Linked DNA regions of Homo sapiens. The protein of the gene in region 2 purifies or fractionates together with the protein of the main gene of each other region. This does not show direct contact. Each region holds a gene or a part of one and is shown on either strand. Other genes may lie near its edges. The genes, in order: DECR1 and FAM118B.

Region 1 (15,836 bases), on a different chromosome or scaffold from region 2:
AATCATAAAACAAACTTTAGGTATCTAATATAATGAACAATAGGAGCTAACATTCATTAAGTAGTTACCACCTGCCAGGATTACATATCAAACTATTTAATCTTCCAAACAACCACATGAAATAGGTATTAGTTTTATCCTATTGTACAGAAAGGGCTCAGAGTGATAAAAAATATATATATTGCCAAAGTTGCAGAACCAAGGTTCAAACTGACTGACAGGCTCCAGAGCCTTCTCTGATAACCAGCTTGCATATTCCTCTGTCTATTCTCTGAGATCCTGCTAAGCTTAATGGTCACACCAGGGAGGTTATGTGATATTCCATTAGGTCATGGTGGCAAGATTAACACTCCAGTTAAAACTCCAGAAGCTACCATTTCCTTCCAGAGTATTCCTGTAGCTAAATAGGCTGTCATCAGTTGGTTCAGGATATCTTGAAATTTATCCTCAGGAAAGAATAAGAAATGTGGTCAATGATTTAGAAGGAGGCTGTTCATCACCTGGAAATTGCACAAGAAAATGTTTATAATGTGATGTTAAATGAAAAAAAAGAAACAAATATACAGTATGTTTTTAACTACAAATAAAAATATATGCTTAGAAAAAAAGACTAGAAGGAAATAACAACAGTAAGTAGTAGATTCAATATTTACCATACAGTCCTCAAAACAGCTCTATAAGGTAAATTCAATTGTTACTTCTATTTTATAGATGAAAAAAACTGAAGCACAGAAAGGTCAAGTAGCTAGCTGTTAAAGATAAATAATAATAGGGAATAAAGACTTAAATCCAGTATCTGTCTGACTTCAGAGTCCACCCATTACTTTACAGTTATGGTTAAGTGATGAGATTATAGATAATTATTTGTTTTTTTTTGTTTGTTTGTTTGATTGGTTTTTAGTACTTTCCAAATCTATCCAATAAGTATGATTAGATCTTTACAAGCAGAAAAAAAGTTACTGAAAGACAAAATTTGAGATCATGTATAAAATAATTGAAGATACATTTGTAAATCTTGTTATGCTCCATGCCAGTCATCATATTTATTTTAGCTTCATGTTGACAAAGCATTTTCTTTTCATATCCTTTTGCCAAAGCACAGTAATCCAAGCAACTCTACAATAATCTTTTTCTACATAAGTGGCAGTTTTCCTTAAAGCTGCCACCTGCCTTCAGAACTATTACATTAAGATGATGAATCAAGAAGTTCACTCAAGTAGAATGGTAAATTTGTCATTAAGTAATAATAATGAAAAAAATGTATTCTAATTTTCTGAAGGCTTTCCCATAATTTTTAACTTTTTAATGTTAATGTGTATAGGGGATTTGATGTGGGACTTCATGAAAATAATTAAACAAGATATTTGCATACAAACTTTCTTTTTAAATTTATTTTAAAACATTTCCTCAACCTCCTCACTGGTAGAGAAAAGGATATAAAGGTAAAAATGTCACATGTGGTAAAAATAATTCCTAGTGTCCATAATGTAACAGGTTATTACATAGCACATTTTTATCTTATATGATCTGATCAATACTAACCTTATGATTCCACTTCCTCACCAAACCAAAGTGAAGAAATTGATAAGCTATTTTAATTCTCATTACCCTCTGACAATACACAGCATATGTGTTAATATAAATTCAAGCCATCTTCTCTGCCTAAAAGGAAGATGTTCATTTCAACCTTAAGACCCATTGAGATGATCAGATCTCACAGGATCACATCATATTCAATCCCGTTTCTACAAGGAAGCATCCTTAATAACCTTAAACAGTATTTTGGTTGGGCTTTTTTGAATTATAAAAAGTAGATACAAAACAGGCTTTTAAAGATTTTCAAGTCTTGCTTTATGGTTTTTAGAGAAATAAGTTTTTTTCAAAAATATAAATAACACCTTTCGTATCAAGATTGATTTCTCTTGAGATCTTTAGTGACCTAAAATTCTTAAAACTTTCTAGAGTCTTCCAACTTTGGCAATACAGAATTATTTTTTAGTTACAAGCTCTAAATCTCTCCCTCAAAAAATTAGCTATCACCTACCTTCCTCACCATACTCATCCCTCTCCTACATCATATAAACAATAGCTTCCTCCTTCATGTATTCCAAAATTACAGCATCTAAACTAATGAGACATGATCATACTTTTAATCTTCAAAATGGCAGTTCTGAGAGTTGACACTGCACCTTCCCCTCAAGGATAAGGACTGTATATCAATGAGATATATACCTAAATTACTTAAGTATATTTTGGCTAGTCTAAAATGTCTAGGGTAAATATCTCAAATAACAGTAGATTAGTGATTCTAGGCCAAATATGTTTTTAAAACTTGAGCCCAAAGTTTTTAAAACTTGAGCCAACATTTAGATAATGGAAGAATTCACATAAAAGTCAGAAGCTCTACCAACACTTGGGTACACCTTACCACATGATTAAGTACAACTACGACTGCCCCCTTGAGACAAGGCCTGAGCTCTGTCCAGCCCCGACTCACACAGGAAAAGTGAGCCCTTTTCACTGGGTGGCCTTTCATAAACAAGGCCTTCAAGGACTTTAGGCCTCTGAGTATGTGACTCCTAGATGCCTATTGTAAGTAACACACAAGAAACCAATACAAAAAAAAAAAAAAAAAAAAAAACGAAAGAAGAGGCAAGGCTTTTATTTTGGAACCACAACTAAATTTCATTTAAAACAAATTTCTACAAAAATCATTGTTTAATGTGTGTGCTAGGTACATTATTAAGAAGATCCAGTTTCAAATATATAAAACTCATACAATAATAGTCTCTCATATGGAAGTTGTAAGGCTAAATGAGTTATCTTTTGAGCACTTAGTTTAGCTATTTATCATCGTCGTCATCATCATCACTATGGATGGGTCCTCCACATTAAAATTCCATTCCTCAAAAACATGGATGCCTTCCAAAGTCAAAAAGACAAAAATCAAACTCTTGAGCATGGCATTCAAGCCACTGGACAATATGGTGCCAACGTATTAATACTTTCCTAGCCCCACCTCGTGACTGATCTGCCATGTAGAAGTAAACTCTACACTTACCAAGCCCTCACAATTCCAAAAACTTGCCAACTACTTTCACCTTCTGGCCTTTGCTCCTGCTTTCTCATTGGCCTGAACCACCCACTGTCTTTCTCAACCCAGCAGAATTGGCCTTCAAAACCAGACAACATTGTCAATATCTCTGTCAACACTTTAAATTGTACCCTATTAAAAACAGGCAAATGGAAGGCTTCCAAATTGGCCTGCTAAGGAGTTGCCACAATTCATTTCAACATATCAGGATGCTTAGGAAGCCAGGGACACGACCTTATATTCATCACTATAGTACAGTTTCTGGCACCAGTTAGGCATTCGGTAAATGCTTGTCTTACTTAATGTAACACTTGGTTGGCCAGACTCCAATTGCATTAGAAAGCACATGGATACAGACATGTAGTCTTATGTGAATATATGATTGAAATCCAGCTTTTGCCACTTGTTTTAAAAAATTAGTCATTTCCAATGACCCTAAATTATGACATCTTAAACATTAGAATAAGCCCAAGAATAGAAAATCTAAATCATCAGGCCGGGCACGGTAGCTAACACCTGTAATCCCAGCACTTTGGGAGGCCGAGGCAGGTGGACCACCTGAGATCAGGAGTTCGAGACCAACCTGGCCAACATGGTGAAACCCCATCTCTACTAAAAATACAAAAATTAGCCGGGCGTGGTGGCATGCGCCTGTAGTCCCAGCTATTCGAGAGGCTGAGGCAGGAGAATTTCTTGAACCCAGATGGCGGAGGTTGCAGTGAGCCAAGATCGTGCCACCACACTCCAGCCTGGGCAACGGAACAAGACTCCCTCTTAAAAAAAAAAAAAAGAAAAGAAAAGAAAATCTAAATCAATCTATACAAGTACTGAGTTACTTGCAAATAGAAAAACTAAGCAAAGGGCTTAGAAAGGTACTCCACACAAACAAAAAACAAATATACGACCATATTTATAACTAAATAAGCATATTTAAACAAAAGGAGACATAATTTTTCTCTTACCAGACCAGCAAGGTTCAAAATTTTATCATCTATAATACAAGAAACAGTTGATTAAAGCCACCCTTACAATCTGTTGATAAGAATTCTGGCAACTTCTTAGGAGGCCAATCTGGCAACATTTTTTTAAATGTTAGATACAAATACTCTTTGACCCAGCAAATCCACATGCAGGAATTTATCTAAAAGAAATACTCATTCATTTGGGAAAGAAGCAGGGGGAGAAGGAGCTATGATCAAAGATATACATTAAGATGAAAATGAAATTAAGAAAACAATTCTGTTTATAATCATATTGAAAAGAATACTAATACATTTAATAAAAGAAGTACAAGACTTATAAATTGAAAACTATGAAACATCATTAAGAAATTAAAGACCTAAGTAAACAAAAAGACATTATATGTTCATGGACTGGAAAGCTTAATTTTGTTAAGAGGACAACACTTCCTAAATTGATATACAGATTCAACAAAATCCCTATCAAAATCCTAATCAGCTTTTTGTGAACGTCGACAAGCTTATCCTAAAATTGTTTTGAAAATGCAAGAGACTCAAAATAGCCAAAGAGATTCATTAAAGAATTGTTTGTAATAGAAAGACTACAAAACAATCTATGTGTGTTTCCTTAGGGGACATAGCCAATGAATTAGAGCACATCTATATTACAAAATACAGTTATATGGATCTATTATCTACCAAAAGAAGGAGCTGGAATGTATATGCTGACTGTAAACATTGCTATAGATGTATTATTTTTTAATTATTCAATAAGTATTTGTTGGATACCAACAATGTGAGACACTATGTGTTAAGTGTAAAACTCAAGGTAGAGAAATACATGTAACAGGCTCCCCTTCATGTGGTTTTTTAAAATGAGGATATCTTCATACATATGTTGACATATGCACAAAAACTGTCAGAAGTATCCACAAGAACCTATTCATAGTAATAACCATAGTAATAATAACCTTATTACACTGTCACTGCATATCCTTTTATATTGCTTGAATGTTCAACATGTTCATAAATTTTTTTTCTTTAACAATAGCTAACAGAAAACTGAATCATATAGGCAAGCACACAATACAAGAAGTACGTAGAGGAAAACAGAGCAAGAAAAAAAATGGCCTAGAATCAATTTCATGATAAGGACATATACCTTACTTGAAGCATAACTACTCTATATTAAACACTAAAGTGTGAGCTATATTTATAAAGATAATGAAATATTTCCACATCTATTTTCTTGGAGCTTCTACGTATCTGTTGGTTCAGGTTGAATCAATATTTTTTAGATCAAATTTACTCCAACTGGAATTCACATAAGAGTTTTGCAGACTGGGCCCTAACTGCCATATTAAACTATCAGCGTGGTAAACACTGGACAACCATATTTTTCAAAGGATGAGTTTCAAAAGTGTACATCTTTGCATTCCCAAAACACCTTATGTACTCCCTGAATACAGGAAGCCTTCCATAACTACTTCCCAATTTATTTTGTCCGATTGCTAGAAGGCCATGCGTGCATTCTTTCCAATGGCCACACCACTGCCACTTCAGCACAGTGTATGTGGTCCTTAGCTGGAGGTATCTGGTAATACAAGGGATAGTTTGGTGGGATGTTCTACTGGATGTTCCAGTGCAGAAAAGGACAGCCTTGCAGAATGAAGAACTGTCTCACCCCAAATGCCAACAGTTGCCCTGCAGACATTAAAATAACTGAGTACCACACCAAAAGCTTGCCACAGGCCTCGTTAACTCATGCTCCATGACTGTGTAGATTGCTTAAGCACATCTGCCTGCTCCTTAACTTATAGCAGGGCACTGAACAGAGGCCACTGATATTCTCAGCTTCCGCAGAGCACAGATCTTGTTGCCACAGCAACCTGAAGGTAAGGCTAAACAAATATAAAAGAAACTGCCCAGCTGGACTCCAAGCTCCAATGGCTAAGCTGAATTATGCAGTTGCCAGGAGCAAGACAGAAATTACATTTTTGAGGAATGATACATTTTGTATCAGTGAACATGAGTCCTTGAAAATGTCGGTGCTCTATGCCATAGGGTGTACATCTCATTTTATTACAGTGGTTATCTGTCTGCAGTTAGATGCAGACTGAACAGATGCTTCTCCAATACAACAAAATAAAAAGAGATGAAATCACAGACCTAAGAGGCAATTTGAAATTTTCAGCTAGGGTCTTCACTCCTGCCTGCCTCTGATTTGAGTCATCTCTTATTGATCCCCTATCATGTTAACCAAAACTATAATGACAATCTTTTTTAAACCAAAAATTAGAATCTCTGCTCTTGCAAAGAGTTTGTTTTGGGAATTTGCTTACATAAAAAAGTATTAGGGATAAACATGACATTATGATGGATATAGAGTTTATTCATTTATTCATTTTAAGCAAGTGTTTATTGAGCATATATTAAGCCCCAGGCACTGTTCTAGGCATGGCAGTACGGCAGTAAAAAAAAAAAACAGACACAATATTCTATTCTCAGCAAGATTATCCTTGGGGGAATGAGGGATAAAGAAATTAAGTTAAATATGTAGTATATTAAAAGTTGATATGTAGTGTGGGGAAAAAATAAGGCAGAGAATAGGGATAGAGCATTGCTACTTTAAATAGAGTCATCAGCAAAGGCCTCATTGAGAAGGTGACATTGGAGCAAAGACGTGAAGGAGAAGAATGAATCACAGGGTTTTAGGCAAAAGGGATTGGGAGCAAAGGCCCTAAGCAGGGGGCATGCTTATGGATGGGGTAACAGTCAGGAAGCCAGTGTGGCTGGAGAAGAAGGAAGGAGGGAGACAGGGGCAGGAGAAGAGGTCAGTGAGGTAAAGGGGACTGGACCATGCAGGCTGAGTCAGCCACTACGGAGACTTAGGCTTTTACTCTGAGGCAAGTGGGAAACATCTTCTAAGTTTTAAGGAGAGAATGGACATGATCTGCCTTAAGTTTTAAGGGGATTGTTCTGGCTGCCATGGAGTGTAGAGGGCAAGGTTGGAAGCAGGGAAACTATTAGGACACTTGTATAACAAGCCAGGCAAGAGATGGTGATGCTTAGCCCAGGATGCTATCATGTGAACTGGTGGGAAGTTAGCAAATAAAACTACTTGCAAGAGCAAAGGTCCCAAAAAATGAGGACGTAATGAGTCACCACTGTACCTAATATCGCCTGGTCCAATTATTTCTTCTTTTTCTTAATGTTTTATTAATACATAACATTTTAACCTATTTATGGGGTACATGTGATATTTTATTCCATGCATAGAATGTGTAATGATCAAGTCAGGATATTTAAGATATCCACTAGATCCATGATTTCTTCTTGCCTCTTGCCCAACAACATGAGCTTGGACTTTTGTTCTTGATCTATTTCATCACATTTTTGCCTGTTTCATTAACAGCATATAAACAGGTCTCCTGTTTACTGAAAAGAACTGAGAGAGATTTTTCTACCTCTCTCATCTTTACCTCAATATCCCTGTTACATCTGCACTGCCTTTGTGTTCTAGAAAAATTAAGATTTAAATGTGAGCCAGAAAAAAGGAAATGGAGACTCATCAGACAGAAGTCATTAAGTGTACATGAGAGATACCGAGGGCAGTAGAAATTAAGAGAAGACAACATATTCCACACACATTTAACATGTAAATTAGCCTGAACCCAGAACCCAACCAGCCAGACCTGGCAAGTAAGGTGAGAGCTGTGGAAGGTAACTGAGTTCTAGTTTTAAGTGGCTGCATGCAGAGTGATGCTCTGACTGAAATGACTGGGTTGACATGAGAAGACCAAGTTGGAGCATTGAGGATAATGAGTTCTGCATCAGAAATGCTGCACTTGGGATGCTTCTGGAATAGTCAGGTAGAGATATCTAAGCTGCAGTAGGAAATATGGTTTTGAAGCATGAAGAATAAATTAGGGCTAAAGGTAAATGGCAACATCATTTCATCATTCCAGCAATTATGAAAGCCTACAGTTCTATCACTGCTTTTATGTTACAATGCAGTGTGAGGGTTTCCCAGACTGGAAGGGATAAAAGTGCAGTTGACCTTGTATTCTAGACTTACTTATCATTACCCTGGCACTTCAATCTCAGAATGATTCATCAACTTAGGAAGAGAAGAGCGCAGGACAGCTGAGAATGCTGATCATTTTCTACCTAGAATTTTCTGCAAAAACTAAAAGTTGCTAAACATCTATTGCATGCTTTCTACCATGGGCTGTAAGAAACTCTGGATAACTTTAAAATTCCCCCCTCTTTTGATGTCATTATCATGACCTTTGGGAGATATCTGAGATCTAGATTATTTTTTGTAATAATATAAAGTTTGCTTTGTAGTTTGGGCAGGAAGTTTGTTTGAAATTTCTTCAAATGCATCCTTAAGCTACAAGGCCAAGATTCATCCATTAACCCCACCCCCACCACCTGCCCTGCCCTGCCCCACCTTGGTGACTCCCTCTCCTCTTCACCTGATACATCCCATCCGTCTATAAGCCCCATGCCTTTTACCTCCCCAGTGTCCCTCTATATCCACCACCTGATTTCAAACCCCTATCTCACAACATTCACAAACATTGGGGGCCTATTCTGTGTCATCTTTTAACTGATCTTCCGAGGACTGCTAATGGGATCATGTTACTTCTCTTCTTAAGATCTTCTAAGGGCTCCTGGTAGCTGCAGAATATCCAGATTCCTTCGCTCCCCATAGCATATGTCTTCACGACCTAGCTCCTGTCCCTCTCTTCTGCCTCATCTCCCCTGAAATTTACACTCAGGAAAACAAAGTACTCAGGATTCCCCAAACATGAACTCTTTCCTACTTTCCTGTCTTTACACAAATTGCTCCCTATCATCACCCAACATTCATCATTGAAACCCAGCTGTGAGAGCTCTGGTGCTTTCCCTAACACTCCCAGGGAGAATTAACATTCTCTCCTCTACTTCTGTAGCTTATTTATCTATATACCACTTGAGGAGTCCCAGACCCTACTGACATTTCAGGACTGATGTCACTTACTCCTCTTCTCCCTCCAGCCCCCACTTAATGTCCTCACTCAAGAGAGTGGCACTGTCCTTAGCTCAGGGGCCAAAGACAGAAATCTGGGCTTCATCTTACCCCATACATTCAAACCAAGCCCAGTTCGTTTTAGTCCCCAGTAGCTCTAATGCTATCCTCAGTTCAGACCCTCATCACTGGTGTTTGGATGTTTGGTCTCCCTACTTCCAGTCTTACCTGATGATATCGTATTTCTGCTCACAATTTTGATGGCAACATGTCACCACTGAGCATAGCCCCATCTCTCATCCTCACCACCAACCAATCACCAAGGCCTCTGATTTTACCTCCTAAATATCACTCAACTTTGAGTGTCTCCAAACCCAATGCATGCCCTCGTTGAGGCCACCATCACCTCTCAACAGATGAGAGGATTACTCAGGGTTTAGCCATTTGTCTCCACTCCCACCCTGCAGGACAAAGTTCTAACTCTTTAACGCAGCCAACAGGCTGCTCACTAAGCTGTCTCTCACCTCCTGCCTCCCCACTCTCTGTTGATAACCTTTATGCTGGGCCTTCACATAGACTACTCTCCTGTTTAAAACATTCTTACATCTCTCCCTTTGGCTAACTCCTACTCATCTTTCAGGTCTCAGCTTTGATATATACCAAACAACAACACTCTCATAAAACTGGACATACCTCCCCCATGAGCAGGAGATGCTTCTTCCCCAGTCCTGACATCTCCCTACTGTGAGAAGTTCAGGTAGTACAACTCCAGGCTTCTTTCTGTCCCCTTAGTCAACCTGCTAAGGATGTTTGGATGTTTGTCCCTTGAAAACTCATGTTGAAATGTGATCCCCAATGTTGGAGGTGGGGTCTAATGGGAGGTGCCTGGGTTATGGTGGCAGATCCATCATGAATGTCGTAGTACCATCTTCATCCTGGCAGTGGCAAGTGAGTTTGCACTCTATTAGTTCCCACTAAAGCAGGTTGTGAAAGAACCTGGCACCTCCCAACACCCTCTCACTTCCTCTCTTGCCGGCACCTCCCAACACCCTCTCACTTCCTCTCTTGCCGGCACCTCCCAACACCCCCTCACTTCCATCTCTGCAAACTCCAGCTCCCCTTCACCTTCTGCCACAAGTGCAAGCAGCCTTAGGCCGTCACCAGATGCAGATGCCCAGTCTTGAACTTGTCCAGGCATCAGAATCATGAGTCAAACAAACCCTTTTCTTTATAAATTACCCAGCCTCAGGTATTCCTTTATAGCAACACAGACTGAGGTACAATCTGTCTGTGCAGAGACAGTTGATATGACTGGTAAATTTTGACAGGATCGTTGGGTATGAACAGTTCTCCTTGGTCTTCTTCCTTTTGGGAGCCAGCTGCCTTCAGAGGACAATGTTCTGCCCTCCTCCAGAGTTATGTAAGTCCGCCTACTTCGGGAGATCCAGCTGATAGGCCCAGCTTCCTCTCACAAACCACAATAAAAGTGATACTTTGGCTTCCATCTTTACTCATTTTTCAGACTGGAAAAAACGGATGCTATTTATTTGGGATCCCATCCAAAAGCAAGAACACCCAACCTAACATGCGGCACATCATACCATAATGCCATTGGACTCTATGCTTCTTGACAGCAGGAATCAGCTCTTCTTCTCACCTTCATATCCCTAGTAAGGTGCCTAGCAAATAGTAAATGCTCAATTTTCTACATAAATAAGAAAAGCCCACCATACCCTGTCCCCCAGCAACCTGACTGATCTCGTCTCCACACGCTTCTCTCTGTTCCCATACTTCACCAACTCCACAATACCAAACAAACCACTTGAATTTTTATAAATAAGCCACTCTTTCACTTCTTGATACATGCTATTCCTTAGGTCTATATTGCCATTGGGACCACACAAATTCCAACTCCTGATTTAACAGCAGGCTCCTGGGGCCACCTCCTCCATGAAGCTTTCCTTGCCTCCTCTAGGTATGTACAGTTTGGGTCATATATGCATTATAATACACATCTGCATCTTCACAGTCTATTGATGTCTGCTGGTGACTCACTAGACTATCATTTTTCAGATTTTTCTGACTGTGAACCATAGCAAGAAATGTGATTTATATAGCAACATACACATGTTCATAGCAACACAGTACACACGTTCATTCATGTAACAGATATTTGTTACATGTTTACTCTATGCTAAGCACTGTTCTAGGTATAAACAGTGGACAAAACAGTTGAAAATCTTTGCCTGCATAGAGCTTATATTCCAGAATTTTACACTGAATAAAGAAATACTTAGGCTTCCAGATTTAAAAAAAATAAAGAAAACACATCTAGTTGGTTTTATACTGCTCCAAGACAATATTCATCGTGAGAAAACAATGAAACAATGTTGACTAAGGGAAAATGTGACATCCAAGTAAAATTATGCCTATCCATCCTTTTACCAGAACAGATGCCTGGAATGATATACACCAAATGCTAACCCAAGTTAATTCTAGGTGGCCAGTTTGAGGTCATATCTTACTTTGTTAACTGTATTGCTGAATATTGGCCAGGAATCATTTTTCTAAAAATAGTGATTTTACTCTTGATAGTTACTATTCTTTTTTTTTTTTTTCTTTTTGAGATAGAATCTCACTTTGTTGCCCAGGCTGGAGTGCAATGGCGTGATCTTGGCTCACTGCAACCTCTGCCTCCTAGGTTCAAGTGATTCTCCTGCCTCAGCCTCCTGAGTAGCTCCTGCCTCAGCCTCCTGAGTAGCTGGGATTACAGGCACGCGCCACCACGCCCGGCTAATTTTTATATTTTCAGTAGAGACAGGGTTTCACCATGTTGATCAGGTTGGATAGTTATTACTCTTGATAAAAACAAAAGGAAAAGAAACATGGCAGTGTGCATGATAGTAATCAAAGAATGAATCAAAAAAGGAAGAATGGTAAATTTTTTTTTTAAAGTTTCACAAAATGAACAACCTTACTACATGAGATGAATTTAGATATATCCTATTCTATTCCATTTTTTTGTTTTTGAGATGGAGTCTCACTCACTCTATCGCCAGGTTGGACTACAGTGGCGCGACCTCAGCTCACTGCAACCTCTGCCTCCCAGGTTAAAGCGATTCTCCTGCCTCAGCCTCCCAAGTAGCTGGGACTACAGGCGTGTGAAACCACACCCAGTAATTTTTGTATTTTTACTAGAGACAGGGTTTCACCATGTTGGCCAGGATAGTCTTGATCTCTTGATCTAATGATCCACCCGCCTCAGCCTCCCAAAGTGCTGTTTTGCTCCACTAAATTGATTTCAAGGCCTACTCATTGGTTATTATTTGTGGCTTAAAATACATATATGAGACTATAGTACATTGAAGGCAGGAATGTCTTTCAACCACAAATTGCCAAAGAATGCCCAATACTTAATAGGTACTTAATTAATTAGTGTTTCCTCATAAACAACTGAATGACTGAATGTTTTCCTCAATAGAACTGAGAGCAACTTGAGAACAGTTGAGAGCAGGGCTCGTATTTTTTAAATTTTGAGTCCCAGGGCATAGCACAGGGCCAGACATAAAGCCAGTCCTCAATAAATATTTATTAAATTGAAATGAGGCCTATTAGCCAGCAGCACAATTTAACACAGCACTTCACAAACAGGTTTTATAACAAATTAAACATTTGCCTTGGTTCTTGGTAACAAAAATATTCAAATTAGGGGTTTTAATTATAACAACTTGTATTTGCCCACAAAAACATGATGTTCCCTGGAACAACCTCCCACATCACAGATGTAAAGACTTTTCTTCTCCCAGGAATTCAAACTTGAGGCTACATGTGCTAGGAAGGGGACAAACCACACTAACAGGTACCTCTCTTGCCTCCCAACCCTGAACCTCAAAACTTCCATATTTTTCTTCAGCAAAGGAATTTCAAAATTGTCAGATTACAATTAATTTTTAAATGAGTTCATTTTCTCCTTCTCAAACTGTATTGTCTAATGGTGTCAGAAGAGCTTGGATAAGGTCTGTATGACCTTATTGCTACAATCCTAATGATGTGTGTTAAAAAATGAAATCTCTGAAGACATCACAGAGCTGTTGTAGATTTCAAATGAGAAATGTCTCTGAAAAGTATCAGAAAATATGGGCTTCCTTTATAATGATCTATAACCCAGTTTTCACAGGGAGAGAAAAAAAATCAGCAAAACCCTAACCCTGAACAAATCTCACTTTTTAAAAGAAAGATACCTTACTTGAGGGAACCACCATACTAATTCTTTGTATTCCTATTTGGAACTACTGCTGCCCATATTTTTTGAAAAACAACACCATGGCTGTCTATTCTATCAAATCAAAAGAAGTTTTTTCACAGTTGACATATTAATTTTTCTACCTGGCTAAAGAAAATGTGCTTTTTAGTTTACTTATAACAATTTTGTAATTTAGATGTGGGGAGGGCTTGTCTTGGATATTATTGCTTCTTTTTGTTTTTGTTTCTCTTTCTTCTTCCTAGCTGTTTTCACTTCCTAGCTATTTCCACTATGGGTGCAATGGAGATGGTGACAGGAGTGTGGGCCAGAGAGAGGGGGAAGCCAGTGTGAGACGGACCTCTCCCAGCTATACATCTGGGAAGGGGAGTCTATAAACAGCTGGGGTTTTGTTTTTGTTTCATTTTTATGATAATTTGTTTGTATTAGTGTTTAATTCCATAACTAACACATAGATGGACTTTCCTCACAACAAAGGACGTCAAAGGTCAGTGCTCGCTCGGCCTGATCCCCTCTCACTCCTTAAGGGGTGGACGGGCGCCGTATCCTTCCCTACCTCTTTCTACCTATTTACACACAAGTTGGAAACTTGCAGAACTGTGAAAACTTCGAAAATCACGTCTCTTCCCTATTCCCCTACACACATCAGGGCTTCATCTGACAGTGGAATACGACCCGGGCCCCGGTGCTCACTCCCGGCGTTGCCCTTCGCTCCGGGACCTGGTGGTCCTCTCTCTCTGCGCCCCAAAACGCCCTGTCCTAGCTCCCTGAGCCCCAGGGACGCCGGGTCCTCTCTTTGTGCCCCAAGACTTCCTGCCCTTTCTCTTGCGCCCCGAGACGTCCTGTCCTCTCTCTCGCTCCCCGGGTTGCTCTGTGCTCTCTTAGCGCTCCAGAACGCCCTGTCCTCTCTCTTTGAGCCCCGGGACACCCTGTCCTCGCTCCCCGAGGCCCCGGGACGCCCTGTCCTCTCTCTCTCTGCGCCTCGGGATGCCCTGTCCTCGCTCCCCGAACCCCCGGGACGCCCTGTCCTCTCTCTTTGCGCCCCAGGATGCCTTGTCCTCGCTCCCCGAGCCCCCGTGACGCCCTGTCCTCTCTCTTTGCGCGTCGAGACGCCCTGTCCTCGCTCCCCGCGCCCCCGGCCGCCTTACCCTCCGAGGAGCGAGGCCACAGGGCAGCCGGGACCCCAGAGTAAAGAAAACCCTGGCCGGTAGCTTCATGTTGAGTCTCCAGAACTCGGGCCGGAAGGCGGCGCAGGCGGTTGGGCGCAGGGGGCGGGACAAAAAGAACAAAGTTCTCGGGGCTGGAAACGCTGCCTAGGCCGCCGGGGGATGGGACGGGGACTGGGACCCAGGCGGCGTGGACGCCCAGCGGCCCTGACCTTCAGAGTCCGGCCGAGGGCGCCGCCTAGCTGGGCCTAGCTGATGCTCTTTCCTGCTCTCTGGGCCAGGAGTGCTTTGTATGGCAGAGAATGGAGGTTCTTTGCGTCCTTGAGCGGGTGTACGAAACCCCGCGCCCTGCAAGGGTTTGCAGATTGCAGCTGCGCACCCCATACACTGCCTATCAAGGGCGAAACTCTTTTTCAGTCGTATGTGTTTATCCCTTAAGTGCGTGTTTAAGTGCAGAGTGCGCGTGGCGCCAAGTCACATATTATCAGAATAATAATATGTTGGATGTAAAACACGGCCTCACTTTCCCTAAGACCAAGAGGCTGAAAAACACTAAGGGCAGCTTCCGGCGTTTTGACTTTTCGCAGGACACACCGCCCCCTGTCGCCGGATGCAGCGTGACTGCGACCGCCCAGCCTTGGCTTTTTTCTCGAAGTTAAACACACGTTAAAGGCAAACACAGATTCAGTATATCATTCTCCATCTTAGTGTAATATACCTGTTGACACAAGGCATTAGCTCAGATCACATTTCTTTCCTCATTCGTAAAATGAGAATATTCATAGCTAATTCAGAATTTTAGATAAAAGAAGATGGGTGTGAGGCCCCAGGCTGAGGCTGATGGTAGATGATATTGAGTGTTTACTATTTGCCTGGCATGTTCCAAATGCTGATAAAGAAACATTTATATCTTCAGAGGAATGTACACTTACATGTAGACATATAGCTTATAAGGTATATAAACTCTGAAAAACTTTGTAATTTTGAGTTGGTCTGGTGATAATTTCCAGGCCTTCTGCCTGTAACTGGTTACAGAAATAAAAACTTTCTTCATCCCCAGTTCATCGACATCTCATTATTGGCAGCAAGAAATAGCAGCCTGACCCTCAGTTTGGTCCAGGAACAAAACTACCACAGATTGGGTGGCTTAAATGGAAATTTGTTTTCTCACAATTCTGGAGGCCACAAGTCAGCAGAGTTGGTTTCTTGTGGAGCCACTGTGGGACCATCTTCTCCCTGTGTCTTTACATGATCCTCCTGTGTACCTTTCCATATCTAAATTGCCTCTTCTTATGAGGACACCAGTCGTGTTGGATTAAGGCCCACCCTCAATGACCTA
Region 2 (15,836 bases):
TCTGGGGAATGAAAGGTTGGTTTAACATCTGCATATCAGGCCAGGTGCGGTGGCTCACACCTGTAATCCTAGCACTTTGGGAAGCCAAGGTGGGCAGATCACTTGAGGTCAGGAGTTCGAGATCAGCCGGACCAACATGGCAAAACCCTGTCTCTACTAAAAATACAAAAATTAGCTGGGCATGGTAGTGCATGCCTGTAATCCCAGCTACCCAGGAGGCTGAGGCAGGAGAATTGCTGGAACCCGGGAGGCAGGGGCTGCAGTGAGCCAAGATCGCACCACTGCACTACAGCCTGGACGACAGAGCAAGACTCCGTCTCAAAAAAAAAAAAAAAAGTCTGCATATCAATATAATGCATCATATCAATAGGATAAAAGACAAAACCACATGATTTTCTCAGTAGGTGCAGAAAAAACATGTTAGCAAAATGCAACACTCTTTCATGATTTTTTTTAAAAAAGCCACACTCTACAAATGAAGGAATAATAGCAAACAATAGAAGGTAACTACCTCAACACGATAAAGACCGTATATGAAAAACTCACAGTTAACATATTTAATGGTGAAAGACTGGATTTTTTCCACTAAGATCAGCAGCAAGACAAGGCTGTTTTCCCACTCCACTCCTGTCCAACATGGTGCTGGATGTTCTAGACCGGGCAGTTAAGCAAGAAAACTAAAGGAATCCATATTGGAAAGGAAGAAGTAAACTGCCTCTGTTTGCAGATGTGATGATCTAGTCTATAGAAGATCCTAGGTTATCCTCTATTAGAACTAACAAGCTTAGCAAGGTTGGAGAATCCGGGATCAATATATAAAAATAGTATTTTTATACACTTGCAGTGAACAATACTAAAATGAAATATTAAAAATTCTTCCACTTGGCATCAAAAATAGTAAAATAGCTAGGAATAAATTTAACGAAAGAAGTACAGAAGGCTAGGCGTGGTGGCCCATGCCTGTTGTCTCAGCGCTTTGGGAGGCCGAGGTGGGCGGATCACCTGAGGTCGGGAGGTAGAGACCAGCCTGGCCAACATGGTGAAACCCCGTCTCTACTAAAAATACAAAAATTAGCTGAGCATGATGGCGGGTGCCTATAATCCCAGCTACTCGGGAGGTGGAGGCAGGAGAATCACTTGAACCTGGGAGCAGAGGTTGCAGCGAGCCAGGATCCCTCCACTGCACTCCAGCCTGGGCAACAAGAGCGAAACTCCATCTCAAAAAATAAATAAATAAGTGGAGAACTTATGCTTTGAAAACTACAAAACACTGAAAGAAATGAAAGAAGATCTAAATAAATGGAAAGACATGCCATGTTCCTGAATCAGAAGACTTAATATTATTAAGATGGAATACTCTGCAAATTGGTCTACAGATTAAGCATGGTCCCTATTAGGATCCAGCTGCTGATTTTGTAGAAATTGACAAACTGATTTAAAATTCATATGGGGCCAGGCACCATGGCATGCACCTGTAGTCCCATCTACTTGGGAGGCTGAGGCAGGAGGATTGCTGGAGGGCTTGAGCCCAGGAGTTCTGGGCTCCCAGGAGCAGGGGACCACCAGGTTGCCTAAAGAGGGGTGAACAAACACAGATTGGAAATGGAGCAGGTCAAAACTCTCATGCTGATCAGTAGTGGGATTGCGTCTGAATAGCCACTGCACTCTAGCCTGGGCAACATAGTGAGACCCTGTCTCTAAAAAAAAAAATTAAAACTTCATATGAAATTACAAGGGACCTAGGGTAGCCAAGACCGTCTTGAAAAAGAACAAAGTAGGGAGACTCAAATTTTTTTTTCTTTCAAAGCTTACTACAGAGCCACAGTAACTAAGGCAGCATGGCAAAGGATTCTCAGATCAGACACTGAAGGCACCAGCAACAGAAGAAAACTAGATAAATTGGACATGATGAGACTTTGAAACGGAAGTGCTGTAATGGTTGTCATCAAGAAAGTGAAAACAGAGCCAGGCACAGTGGCTTGTACCTGTAATCCCAACTACTTGGGAGGCTGAGGTAGGAGGATCATTTGATCCCAGGAGTTCGAGGCTGCAATCAGCTATGATCATGTCATTGTACCTCAGCCTGGGCAACATAGTGAGACCCTCGGCTCTAAAAAAGAAAAAAAAATGAGGCCGAGCGCAGTGGCTAACTCCTGTAATCCCAGCAATTTGGGTGGCCAAGGCAGGCGGATCACCTGAGGTCGGAAGTTCGAGACCAGCCTGGCCAACATGGTGAAACCCCATCTCTAATAAAAATACATAATTAGCTGGGCGTGGTGGCGCATGCCTGTAGTCACAGCTACTGGGGAGGCTGAGGCAGGAGAATTGCTTGAACCCGGGAGGCGGAGGTTGCAGTGAGCCGAGATAGCGCCATTGCACTCCAGCCTGGGCAACAGGTACGAGACTCCGTCCCAAAAAAAAAAAAAAGAAAGAAAGAAAGAAAAGAGAACCCACAGAATGGAGGAAATTATTTGTAGATCATATTTGACAAAAATCTAGTATCCAGAATATATAAAGAACTATTACAACTTAATAATAAAAATGATATATTTAGGGGAAATTTAAACACTAATATTAAGACATTAATATTTTTTAGGTGAGATAGAAGTATTGCGATTATGTTTTTGTTTTGTATGTACTTTTCTGACTTTTGTGTGTGTTTGGAAATGTCCATATTAGAAAAGAATCAAATCTAACAGTATCAACTCAGCAGTACTATGGCAGGGTTAACAGGCCTATCTACCGAGCCAGTTTAATGTATACTGGGGAAGTGACATTACAGATTCACTGCAAAGAGCTTAGGTTTTGGAATCAGACTCTGCCACTTAAATGCACTGGAACCCTGCACAAATCCCTTAACTTGTCAACATCTGTTTTTGCACCTGTGAAACTGGGATATTACTTCCTTGTGTCGCTTTGTGAAGAATAGGTGAGATAATGTGTATAAAATGTCTGGCACATAGTTGATGCACTAGAAATGTTAATAACCCTGGGGCGGGAGGCGGTGGGGGAACAGGTTTTTTTTCTTTCTTTTTTTAAATAGAAATGGGGTCTCCCTGTGTTGCCCAGGCTGGTGTTGAACTCCTGGGCTCAAGTGATCTTCCTGTTTCAGCTTCCCAAAAACTGAGATTACAGGCTTGAGCTACCATGCCAATTTTTTGTTTCTTGTTTTTACTAAGTTTCAGGGTAGAAGGAAATGAAGGTCACTGTTTTAGATGAATGGGAAAAGGCCCTTAGAAGTTGTGTGGGAGTTTGGCATTTCCTTCTGACTACTGAGCCTCCCTGTTTATGTTTTCATTCCTTTGTCTTTGCTTATAAAGGCCACTGGTGGCAAATTTAGTTCTAGGGTCATCTGCTTTAAGAGAAAAAAACTTTCCAGCCTGGGAAACAAAGCGGGACCCCCTATCTCTACACAAATTTTAAAATTAGCCTAGTGTGGTGGTACACGCCTGTGGTCCCACCTACACAGGAGGCTGAGGCAAGAGGATCACTTGAGGCCAGAAGTTTGAGAACAGCTTGGGCAACATAGTGAGACCCTGTCTGTACGAAAAATTTAAAAAGTAGTCGGCGTGGTGGTGTGCGCCTGTAGTCCTAGCCACTTGGGAGACTGAGGCAGGAAGATTGCTTGAGCCCAGCAGGTCAAGGCTGCAATGAGCCACGTTCATGCCACTGTACTCCAGCTTGGTGACAGAGCCAGACTTTCTCTCAAAAAAAGAGACAAACTTCCATTTTGAATCTTGAGGAAATCAATGCAGTTGCAGAATCATATTTCCTTCCTATGTTGATATGTAGGATTTAGTAGCTTAAATAGGTCTAAAAGATACTTAATTAAAATAAGTGACCTGGATTTTTTTCCCCCCAGGTTTTAACCTTTTCTATTCTTTTTCTTAGAAGCAAGAAAATATGTTCCACACCCATGATTATGTGATTGTATACCCAGGCCTTTTTATCGGTGTGTGTAATAATAAAACTGGTGTTAAAATGTAGTACGTATTTGCCAGCGCGGTGGCTCACGCCTGCAATCCCAACACTTTGGGAGGCCGAGGCGGGCAGATCACAAGGTCAGAAGTTCAAGACCAGCCTAGCCAACATGGTGAAACCCATCTCTACTAAAAACACAAAAAATTAGCCTGGCGTGGTGGCAGGCACCTGTAATCCCAGCTACTCGGGAGGCTGAGGCAGGGGAATTGCTTGAACCCAGGAGGCGGAGGTTGCAGTGAGCTGAGACCACGCCACTGCACTCCAGCCTGGGTGACAGATCGAGACTCCATCTCAAAAAAAAAATATATATATATATCTATATATATATATAGATATACGTATATCTATATAGATACGTATATCTATATATATATTTTTGTACTCTGACTCACAGACACACACTATCAATACATTATATATATTGTATATATATATACAAGGCGTGGTGGCACGCACCTGTAGTCCCAGCTACTCGGGAGGATGAATCAGGAGAATCACCTGAACCAGAGAGGCAGAGGTTGCAGTGAGCCAAAATCACGCCATTGCACTCCAGGCTGGGCAACAGAGCAAGACTCTGTCTCAAGAAAAATAAAAATAAATAAAAAATAAAATAAAATAATGATGCAGTGATAACCTCATATGTGTCATTTCATTTGTTTGAAATTGTATTTGTAGGATACATGTGACTGCTAGATCATAGGGCAAATGGATTTGTGATTTGGGTAGACAAGAAAAGAGCACCATATTTTTTATAACAAATCTAAAAAAGTATCTGACCTTCAATAGTAGTTGACTTTTTTTTTTTTTTTTTTTTTTTTTTTTTGAGATGGAGTTTCGCTCTTGTTGCCCAGGCTGGAGTGCAATGGTGCGATCTTGGCTCACTACAACCTCTGCCTCCCGGATTCAAGCGATTCTCCTGCCTCAGCCTCCCGAGTAGCTGGCACTACAGGCACCACCACCACGCCCAGCTAATTTTTTTATTTTTAGTAGAGAGATGGGGTTTCACCATGTTGGCCAGGATGGTCTCGATCTCTTGACCTCGTGATCCACCCGCCTTGGCCTCCCAAAGTGCTGGGATTACAGGCGTGAGCCAGCACGCCCGGCCCAGACTCGCTTTTATAACTGACACACTTAGGATAACAAATCTACTCCTGCAATAATGACATTAATCAATTCATGGAGGCACGGCCCTCGTGACTTAATCACGTCTTACTAGGTCTCGCCTCCCAACACAGTTCCGTTGGGGTTAAGTTTCCAACACATGAACGTTAGGGGACCAGTCCAAACCCTAGCAAATGGCATTTCACAGACAGGCTAGGGATCAGATATTACATCACATTACATAGTTACTTTCCCATTTCAAATTCCCTTCGTCCCAAGAGCCACTTTGTCTTTTCAGTTGTAAAGCCAGTTTCCCACCTGAAGTTGGTATTATAGTTCCTCATTAGTACTCAGGGATATTTACATGTATTCAAAATGAATCTGAAAAGCAGTTATTTAAGTAAGCCGTATGTTAAGAAGTAGGAGGTCTGGAAAAGTGGCTGATACCCATAATCCCAACACTTTGGGAGGCTGAGGTGGGAGGATCACTTGAGATCCCAGGAATTCAAGACCTACCTGGACAACATAGCCAGACCTCACATCTGCAAAACAAGACATTGGGATTCTGTTTAGAACTGATTGGTGTTTGATGTTTTCAACAGTTGCAAAATGCAAATTTTTAATTTAAAAAACGTATTAAATTGTTTACGTTAACCTTTTGTATACTGGATATTCTTCAGAATAAACCTATGAACTGCTGAATTATGGCATGTAGAAGTTAAGCAGTTTTTCCTAAATTCATAAACAGCTGTACAAACACCTAGGATTAGAAAAGGAGATGCTGAGGCTGGGTGTGGTAGCTCACACCTGTAATCCCAGCACTTTGGGAGGCTGAGGTGAGTGGATCACAAGGTCAGGAGTTCAAGACCAGCCTGGCCAAGATGGTGAAACCCCGTCTCTACTAAAAATACAAAAATTAGCTGAGCACAGTGGCAGGCGCCTGTAATCCCAGCTACTTGGGAAGCTGAGGCAGGAGAATTGCTTGAACCTGGCGGGGCGGAGGTTGCAGTGAGCCGAGATCACGCCACTGCACTCCAGCCTGGGTGACAGAATGAGACTCCGTCTCAAAAAAAAAAAAAAAAAAAAAAAGAAAAAGAAAAGGAGATGCCAAACCACAATTAGGGCTGTGTCTCAGTGGCGTTTCCCTACATAAGGCAAGATGAACGGAAAGTGTTGCCTTCTTACCTGGCACCTCATGAGAGGGTAGTTGTCGCTCTGCTTTGTACCCCAGCTTCCCTTTAATACCGACAGTAAATTCATATCCCTTGGCCAGGTTTATTTTCTTCATTCTATAAAAATGCCTATTTTAGGAAGCTTACGTATAGTAGCACTTGCTATCTGCTAAGCATTGTGCTAAGCACTTGGCATGTATCATCTCATCTTCCTTATTACGTTCGTATGAGATAGATAATATTTTATCCCCGGGATTTTTTTTTTTTTTTTTGAGATGGAGTCTCGCTCCGTCGCCCAGGCTGGAGTGCAGTGACGCGATCTCGGCTCACTGCAAGCTCCGCCTCCTGGGTTCACACCATTCTCCTGCCTCAGCCTCCCAAGTAGCTGGGACTACAGGCGCCTGTCACCACGCCCTGCTAATTTTTTTTATTTTTAGTAGAGACGGGGTTTCACCGTGTTAGCCAGGATGGTCTCGATCTCCTGACCTCGTGATCCGCCCGCCTCGGTCTCCCAAAGTGCTGGGATTACAGGCGTGAGCCACTGCGCCTGGCCTTTATCTCTGTTTTGAATTCAAAATATTCTTCCAAAATTTGTTACTGCTGTAACTAAAACAACTGACCTACCAAAGCACTTTGGACTAATTTTCTTTTTTCAAATCCCTCCTCAGCGTACCAGTAATGTTCGATCCACATTTTTCAAGGACTGTTTATATGAAGTATTTGATGACTTGGAGTCAAAGATGGAAGATTCTGGAAAACAGCTACTTCAGTCAGTTCTCCACCTGATGGAAAATGGAGCCCTCGTATTAACTACAAATTTTGATAATCTCTTGGAACTGTATGCAGCAGATCAGGGGAAACAGCTTGAATCCCTTGACCTTACTGATGAGAAAAAGGTAAAAAGTAAAGCATTGGTCCCTTCTTCAGGCTAGTGGATTTTATCTTCCTCAGAAAAGCTCTTTTCTAGTTGGTATATTGGTATTTATGTAGAGCTAGAAAGGAAAAATTTTTTCCCTGGTTGGAGTTTTTGTTTTTCTTTTTTCTTTCTTTTTAAAGATCAAATCAATATACAGTAAAATGCATAGAACTTAAAAGTGTTCAGTTCTATGACTCTTGACAATTTCATCCAGTTTTAAAGCAAGATTAGAGGAAGTCACTTGAACTGTAAGATCTCTTTAGCACTTGACAGTATTCAGTGGTGTAATATTGATAATGCTGGTTCTATTTTAGGATACCTTTTTTTATGGCATCTATTGGAAATGTATGAAAACTACTTTATACTGATTGGAAGAACAACTTCCAGGCCAAGCGATGGCTGAATTGAGGTTAATGTTTAGTGGAAACCTCAGCAGACTTTGTTTTAGCATAGTCTATACTGTACCTACCATAATTATTGAATTATAGATGTTGATCTGTGTCAGCTAATGAGATGAGTTCTTAAAGTCTCATTGGTCCTACTCTGTGATTTTTGTAATGTTTTTTCCTACACTTTGTTTTCCTCAGGAATCTGCCTTTATGTCCAATTTAGAGCCCAACTAAGTAGAGTTGAATAGACAAGTGATTTGCCTGCTGGCATTCAGTACTACAGTATTGCCCCTGCCAGAGTGGTAGCTGAAATACCACTCTTGTGGTTTTGCTGACCTTGATGGCAGGATTTAAAGGGAATTGAATTTAGAGAAAAGCTGCCCCATGAAGACTAGTTTTCTCTGGTCCAAGTGTCTTCCGCCTACGCCCTCATATTCTGTATGGTCAGCTCCTTCTTCATTTATAACTCTCAACCTAGGGATCCCCTCCTGAGAGACCTTCTCTGACCATCCTATTTAAATTGGATACTTATTTTTTTTATCCAGTCTCTTGTCCGTTTCCTTTGTAGCACTTAGTATTAACTTGCAGCTTTTTTTTTTTTTTTTTGAGAGACAGTTTCGCTCTTGTTGCCCTGGGTTCAAGTGATTCTCCTGCCTCACCCTCCTGAGTAGCTGGGATTACAGGCATGTGCCACAACGCCCGGCTAATTTTGTATTTTTGGTAGAGACGGGGTTTCTCCATGTTGGTCAGGCTAGTCTCAAACTCCTGACCTCAGGTGATCTGCTAACCTCAGCCTCCCAAAGTACTGGGATTACAGGCATGTGCCTGGCCGTTTTGTTTTGTTTTGTTTTGTTTTGTTTTGAGATGGAGTTTTGCTCTTGTCGCCCAGGCTGAAGTGCAATGGCATGATCTCAGCTCACTGCAACCTCCTCCTCCTGGGTTCAAGCGATTCTCCTGCCTCAGCGTCCCGAATAGCTGGGATTACAGGCACCCGCCATCACGTCTGGCTAATTTTTGTATTTTCAGTAGAGACAGGGTTTCACCATGTTGGCCAGGCTGGTCTCGAACTCCTGACCTCAGGTGATCTGCCCACCTTAGCCTCCCAAAGTGCTGGGATTACAGGCATGAGCCACCACACCCAGCACAGTTTTTATCTTGGCTGTTTATCTGTTTTCTGACTGTTTACCCCATAGGAATAGTAACTTCACTTGGATAGGTATCATGTTAGTCTTTCTTACCCTCATAACTCAAATACAACCCTCATGTCTCAAATATGACAGTTAGGTGCTTGGTAAATATTTTTTTGATTAATAAATGATTGGGCTGGGCACAGCAGCTCAGGCCTGTAACCCCAGCACTTTGGGAAGCTGAGGCGGGAGGATCACTTGAGCCTAGTTCAAGACCAACCTGGGCATCATAGCAAGACCCCATCTCTACAAAAAGTTTAAAAATTAGCCGGGCATGGTGGTGTTTGCCTGTGGTCCCAGCTACTTGGGAGGCTGAAGCAGGACGATCGATTGAGCTGAGGCAGTCGAGGCTACAGTGAGTTGTGATCACACTGTTGCACTCCAGCCTGGGTGACAGCATAAGATCATGTCTCTAAATAAATAGGCTGGGCACAGTGGTTCACGTCTGTAATCCCAGCATTTTGGGTGGCCGAGGTGGGTGGATCACTTGAGGTCAGGATTTTGAGACCAGCCTGTCCAACATGGTGAAACCCCGTCTTTACTAAGAATACAAAAACTAGCTGGGAGTGGTGGTGCACGCCTGTAATCCCAGTTACTTGGGAGGCTGAGGCAGGAGAATCATTTGAACCCAGGAGGCAGAGGTTTCAGTGAGCCAAGATTGCGCCACTGTGCTCCAATCTGGGCAACAGACCAAGACTCTGTCTAAAAACAAACAAACAAATGATTGAAATTTTAAAACTAGCAGCTTCTATGCTATTTGTGATAAAATTTCCAAAGATTATGACCAAGTGTGTTCATGGATATCAGAAGCATAAGGACCTTTTAAAAGCTGAGGATATCTATCACATTTGATGTTTTCCTTCTCATTTCATCCTTGGGCCTCAAGATTTGCATTGTATTTTCAGCCCACATTAGGGGCAGTGTTGCAGTCTAATGGTTAAAGACATTGACTGGTAGTCAGAATGGGGCCTAGTAACATTCAAATTCTAAATCTCGGTGCCTCTTGACTACTTTCCTGATTCATAGCCTATTTCTCCAAAATGTGATAAGAATAAATGTATGCTGTCTCCAGTCCTTGGGAAAATGGAGCCATGGAATCAGGTGGCTATTGCATTCGCTGTTGTCTAAATGATTGTTCTTCGCTGGCAGCCTTTTAGGTTCCTCAGAGGTGACTGAAGTGATTTTTCTATCACTTATCTATTGCTGTACAAGTAATGGCCGTGAAACTTTGTGGCTTGTAACAACAAATATCTTATCTGCCCATGATAAAGTATATTAACAATTTGAACTGGGCTCAGTGACTCAGCCAGGCATTTTTTCTGCTGATTTTTGCACCCTCTTCACATACCTGCAGACATCTGATGGCCGCACCAGGGCTGAGTGATATAAGGGGACCATACTTCCCTGCAAGCAATTGGCCAGGCCATATATGTCCCAGCAGGCTAGCCCAGGCTTCTTCACTTTCTTCGCATGGCAGCTGGATTCCAAAAGTAACACAAGAGAAGTAAGACTTCTTGTGCCAACACTTTTCAAGCTTCTGCTTGTGTGTGTTTGCTAGTATCCCATTGGCTAAAAGCAAGCCATGTGGTTAGCCTGGAGTCACTCCGAAGAGGGGCCACACAAGGGCCTGGATACAGAGGCTTGATTTCTTGGGGCGATCACTGAAGCAGTTGTCCATAGCTCTCATGCATGCCACCAGTGCAAAGGGTCCCTGTTGTTTCTGCAAATTATGACAAATTGTGATTTTTGATGCTTACTTTCAAAGAGAAATCACCAAATTTGTTGCCATCATTCTTGACAGTCATTCCTGAAGTGGAAACTTAGACCACATCAGGTTTTGCATTCTTGTCCTATATCATGAAGCTAGAGAGTTTATGTCAGAAGTCTAGTCCTCAAAACAGCCTCTTGCCCATTGTGACCTTTAAACAGGTGCTCAGCCCTGCCAAGCTGGTTGGGCTATATGTGTGTTGTGCAGGTCCTCGAGTGGGCTCAGGAGAAGCGTAAGCTGAGCGTGTTGCATATTCACGGAGTCTACACCAACCCTAGTGGCATTGTCCTTCATCCGGCTGGATATCAGAACGTGCTCAGGAACACTGAAGTCATGGTGAGTGGGGCTGATCTTGCTGGTCTCAGGAACTCCTTCCTGGGAAATCTCTCTAAATATGCCATAGATCTTAAAGGGGAACATCTTCTTTTCATTAAGTGAAAACGGAAGGTCAGGGGCTAGGAGCAGTGGCTCATGCCTATAATCCCAACACTTTGGGAGGCCAAGGGGAGAGGATCACCTGAGGCCAGGAGTTCGAGACCAGCCTGGGCAACATAGCGAGACTCTTGTCTTTACAAAAATAAAATTAGCTAGGCATCATGGTGCATGCTGTCCCAGCTACTTGGGAGGCTGAGGCAGGAAGATTAGTTGAGACTAGGAATATAAGGCTGTAGTGAGCTGTGTCTAGAGCCACTGCACTCCAGCTTGGGTGACAGAGCAAGGCCCTATCTCTAAAAAAAGAAAGAAACTGGAAAGTCAGACGTTCTTCCTGTGCTTCTTAACTTATGGGTGTGCATGCTGTCTAGGAAATGTAGAATTTCTCTTAAGGTGTCAAACCCTATGATCTTTGTTTGTACTTAATTGACAACCAGCAGATGGCATGTCATCATTGGCATCATCTTCACATACAAAGGATACATTAGTACCCTTTATCATCATTTGGTTTATTAATAGCCCTCTCTGTGTCAGAAATAATTGAGGCAGCTTCTTAACAAACCAACCACTACTAGAGAATACATTCTAAAGAGACTTTGTATAAATGGCAATGGGCTTATATTGAATTAACCACATTTATTCACACTTACTCTTTGTGAAAAGCTTATTGATCTTTTGGGATGCACATTTTCGACTTGTTCAGATAAACATGTTCAAACCAGAAGTATTCGCTGCCCCCAGCTCTAAGAATCTTGTTTGCTGTTTTCAGGACTGGGTCATATAGATTATAGCATCTTTTAATAATGAGGCAAAAGACCGAGAAAATGTATTGTCTAAAGCACAAGGGACTTTTTTTTCTTTTTACCCATTCTTTCCCAACATCTGCCATAACTGCATCCATCTCTGACATTGAGTGATCCCTTAGGCAGTCATTTCTGTGTTTTTGTGTGTGTATATGTATACACACACACACACATACTGATGTTCTAAGTATCAAACGCCTTTCCTTGAGCAAATCCGATGATGGAATTATCTTCTCTGGTGATTCACAGTTCAGTTTGTGAGACAAAGGCAAATATGGTCCAGAAATGGAAGGATTAAGATATATGAAGACCTACTCTTTGCACAATGACCTCTGGGCACATAAATCTAAAAAAGTACGCCTGTAATCCCAACACTTTGGGAGGCTGAGGCAGGCAGATCACATGAGGTCAGGAGTTCCAGACCAGCCTGGCCAACATGGTGAAACCCTGTCTCTACTAAAAATAGGAAAATTAGCTGGGCGTGCTGGCAGGTGCCTGTAATGCCAGCTACTTGGGAGTCTGAGGCAGGAGAATCGCTTGAACCTGGGAGGCAGAGGAGGTTGCAGTGAGCCAAGACCATGCCACTGCACTCCAGCCTAGGTGGCAGAGCAAGACTCTGTCTCAAAAATAAAATAAAAATAAAAAAGTAAACTACTGGCCAAGTGCAGTGGCTCACGCCTGTAATCCCAGCACTTTGGGAGGCCAAGGTGGGTGGATCACTCGAGGTCGGGAGTACCAGACCAGCCTGGCCAACATGGCAAAACCCCGTCTCTACTAAACATTCAAAAATTAGCTGGGTGTGGTGGTGCACACTTGTAATATACTCGGGAGGCTGAGGCATGAGAGTCACTTGAACCAGGGTGGTGGAGGTTGCAGTAAGCCGAGGTCACACCACTACACTCTAGCCCAGGTGAAAGAGTGAGACTCCGTCTCAAAAAATATATAAAGCATAAAAAATAAAGAAGTAAACTACTGCACCAGTACACTGACACCAGCTCTATGAAACGCTGATTAGAGAGCCTACAGAAGAATGGCAGGTAAAGATAAAATTTTAGACCAATCATCAAGTTACAGCAATAAGCAAGAGATCACACTCCTTGATGGGACATACCAACCCACTTAAGTCTTGCTTAATTGGTCATCACAGTCTGCTCAACGTAGCATGACCTTCTTGTTTCAGACTTGCCTTGAGTGTGTCTTCACAATGTCAATATGTTGTATCTTTTCCTTCCAGAGAGAAATTCAGAAACTCTACGAAAACAAGTCATTTCTTTTCCTGGGCTGTGGCTGGACTGTGGATGACACCACTTTCCAGGCCCTTTTCTTGGAGGCTGTCAAGCATAAATCTGACCTAGAACATTTCATGCTGGTTCGGAGAGGAGACGTAGATGAGTTCAAAAAGCTTCGAGAAAACATGCTGGACAAGGGGATTAAAGTCATCTCCTATGGAGATGACTATGCCGATCTTCCAGAATATTTCAAGCGACTGACATGTGAGATCTCCACAAGGGGTACATCAGGTAAGATGCATTTTGAAGCTGAGGGGAATCAGAGAACAACAGCTCTTCAGCCTTTTGTGTATTTGTGATGTGATGGGCAAAATAGTTGCCAAGATGAGGAATGTAATGACTGACCAAATTGTAAAGGAGGCCACAGTCTTCAGGTTAGACTAAAGTGCCACTTGGATTATGGGAAGACAGACAAAAAGGAATACTTGAGCAGTTCAATATAGACATAGGAAGAATGAAGAAAACAGATGTTCAGCCTCACTAGTTATCAATGAAATGCAGTTTGAATTTAGATTACAAAATAGCGAAGAAAGATCACCCAATTTTGGCTAAGGCTGTGAGAAAATAAATTTATTCATGGAGTATTTGTGGAAAGGTAAAGTTAGTACAACTTTTATGACCATAAATTAGAAGATGTAACAAAAATTTTCAAATCTTTGACCTAGAAATCCCATCAAAACAATTTATCCTAGAAGTTTCTCATAAGGAGATAATTGGATGATTGCACAATCACACAATTGTACAAAGATGCATGCGTGGGAATGTAATTTCCATTGAATGTAGTGGCAAAAAATTGGAAGGATCCTAAAATTGGTGGAGATTCTACAGATATGCCAATATTTATTTAATTGATGAAATACAATGAAACCATAGAAGGGAAAGTGTTTTCATTGCCATAAAAAAAAAAGTTAGAGACATATGAGTAAAGGAAGAAAAAGCAGGTTGTAAATACCATGGTCAGCTATATTCATATAGAATTGTACATTTTTTTTTTTTTTTTGGTGCGTGTAGAAATGTATCTGGAATGTTTACTAAATTAAGTGGCTATCTTTAGTAGGATTTAAAGTGTTGATTTTTTGGTTTCTGTATTGGCATTTTCTATGATGATTATGTATTATATTTACAAACAGAAAACTTACTTTTAGAAATGCTATTTGGAAACGGATAATGGTGATATTCAAGTCAGAGGATAGGGGTATCATACACTTGATATTTTACCTCCACATTCTAACAATAAAGAGCAAAATGGTGATTAAAGATTCAGCTGATTAGTGGCTGCAGGCAAATTCCCAGTAACCGCACAAAACACAAACATTTTTGGTATCAGCTAAACTGAAGAATGCTTTTTCAAAACCTCACATTGCCAGGCTCCAGAGTATGGCTAGTGTGACTCATCCATCTAATTCCAAAAAAACTTGGCTGTTGTGCACAGAATATTTCCTGAAAACTTATGTAAGTATTTTCATTGTCAACCTGAATGCATCTTAGGAGGGCAAAAGTACAGGTAATTTGTCCTGTAATCCCAACACTGTGGGAGGCCCAGGTGGGAGGATCACTTGAGGCCAGGAGTTCAAGATGAGTGTGAGCAACATAGTGAGAACCTGTCTCTGCAAAAAATTAGCCAGGTGTGGTGGCACACACCTGTAGTCCAGCTGCTTGGGAGGTTGAGGCAGGAGGATCACTTGAGCCCAGGAGTTGGAGTCTGCAGTGAGCTATGATTGCATCACTGCCCTACAGTCTGAGCAATAAAGCAAGACGCTGTTTCTAAAATAAATAACATACAGGTAATTTAATAAACATAAAGCAGTTTTCCTAAATCAAATCATCCCCAGATTTCTTAACTGAATCAGATGGCTTCAAGTAGAATTCTCCTGTAATGAAAAATTACACAGCTTCTTCCATGGCTATGCTTTGATGGAACCAGACTTTTAAAAGCCATCACCACATGAACAAGTCTCATTTGTGAAAACTATTTACTATTCTTTGTTGGAAATGAGTTTTTCTGGTGTCCTGCAGTGTTCTAGACTCTCCTGCTGTTGTTTGCCCACACTTGAGACTTTGAGAAGGCTTTTCTGTTGCACATGTTGTTTTCATTAACAAGACATACATATCCAAGTTCTACATATTTCTTTTGATCTATATGCTGAGGAAAGATGCTAAAGTTTAAAACAGCAAAATCCGTCTGCATAACTGTTTCTGTTGCACTAAATCTTAGCAAAAAATAAATATGTCTTTAGACTGTTGCATTACATAACAAAGAAGCAGTAAGGTTCCTTAGTGCACTAAGATTGCTCTAAGGAACCTTAACTGCTATTGTGGAATGGCACAAATTCTTTTATTAGCTGTGTAGGCTTCCTACCAGAGTAGCTTTCCCCGAAGTTACCCATCATTAAGGTGTTCTGTATCTTTAAACAAAATCAAGGATTTTCAGTATGGCCAGAGTGCTTTATGGGAATGGTCAGCTGAGTTTGTCATGTGAAATGTAGTAGAGCAGTTTCAGGTTAAAACATCATTTCATTTTGAAACGAGTCAACCTTATCTTTCACCCTTGCATAATGTTTTGAGTCTCTGTAGATATAGACTAATGAGAGGTTACAGGTCTTTTGCTGTTATTTTGTTTTTTAACACTGAACCTTTGCTATGTGCCTGGCATTGTGCTGTATACTCACTTTTGCATAGTGGAAATTAATTGTCTTCAAAGGATTCTATAGTATGTAGTTACACATATTTTGGAAAAATCAAGCAGTGGGAAAAAGAAAAATAATTCTTATAATCCATTACCATACAAGCAGTCGTTG

The links.
Region 1: the proteins of FAM118B (region 2) and DECR1 purify together in Homo sapiens (affinity purification with mass spectrometry; 2 studies listed by BioGRID and IntAct, with this or other methods). This does not show direct contact.

Annotation. Positions count from the first base shown.
Region 1 is NC_000008.11:90,000,205-90,016,040, reverse strand, and holds the start of DECR1 (2,4-dienoyl-CoA reductase [(3E)-enoyl-CoA-producing], mitochondrial isoform 1 precursor), read right to left. Parts: upstream 14,565-15,836; 5' UTR 14,549-14,564; coding exon 14,480-14,548; exon of another isoform or gene 10,672-14,479; intron 10,594-10,671; exon of another isoform or gene 9,806-10,593; coding exon of another isoform or gene 9,764-9,805; intron 501-9,763; exon of another isoform or gene 417-500; coding exon of another isoform or gene 375-416; intron 1-374. UniProt on the Homo sapiens protein: Auxiliary enzyme of beta-oxidation. It participates in the metabolism of unsaturated fatty enoyl-CoA esters having double bonds in both even- and odd-numbered positions in mitochondria.
Region 2 is NC_000011.10:126,243,584-126,259,419, forward strand, and holds part of FAM118B (protein FAM118B), read left to right. Parts: intron 1-6,922; coding exon 6,923-7,150; intron 7,151-10,675; coding exon of another isoform or gene 10,676-10,721; coding exon 10,722-10,850; intron 10,851-11,567; exon of another isoform or gene 11,568-12,983; coding exon 12,984-13,269; coding exon of another isoform or gene 13,270-13,287; intron 13,288-15,836. UniProt on the Homo sapiens protein: May play a role in Cajal bodies formation.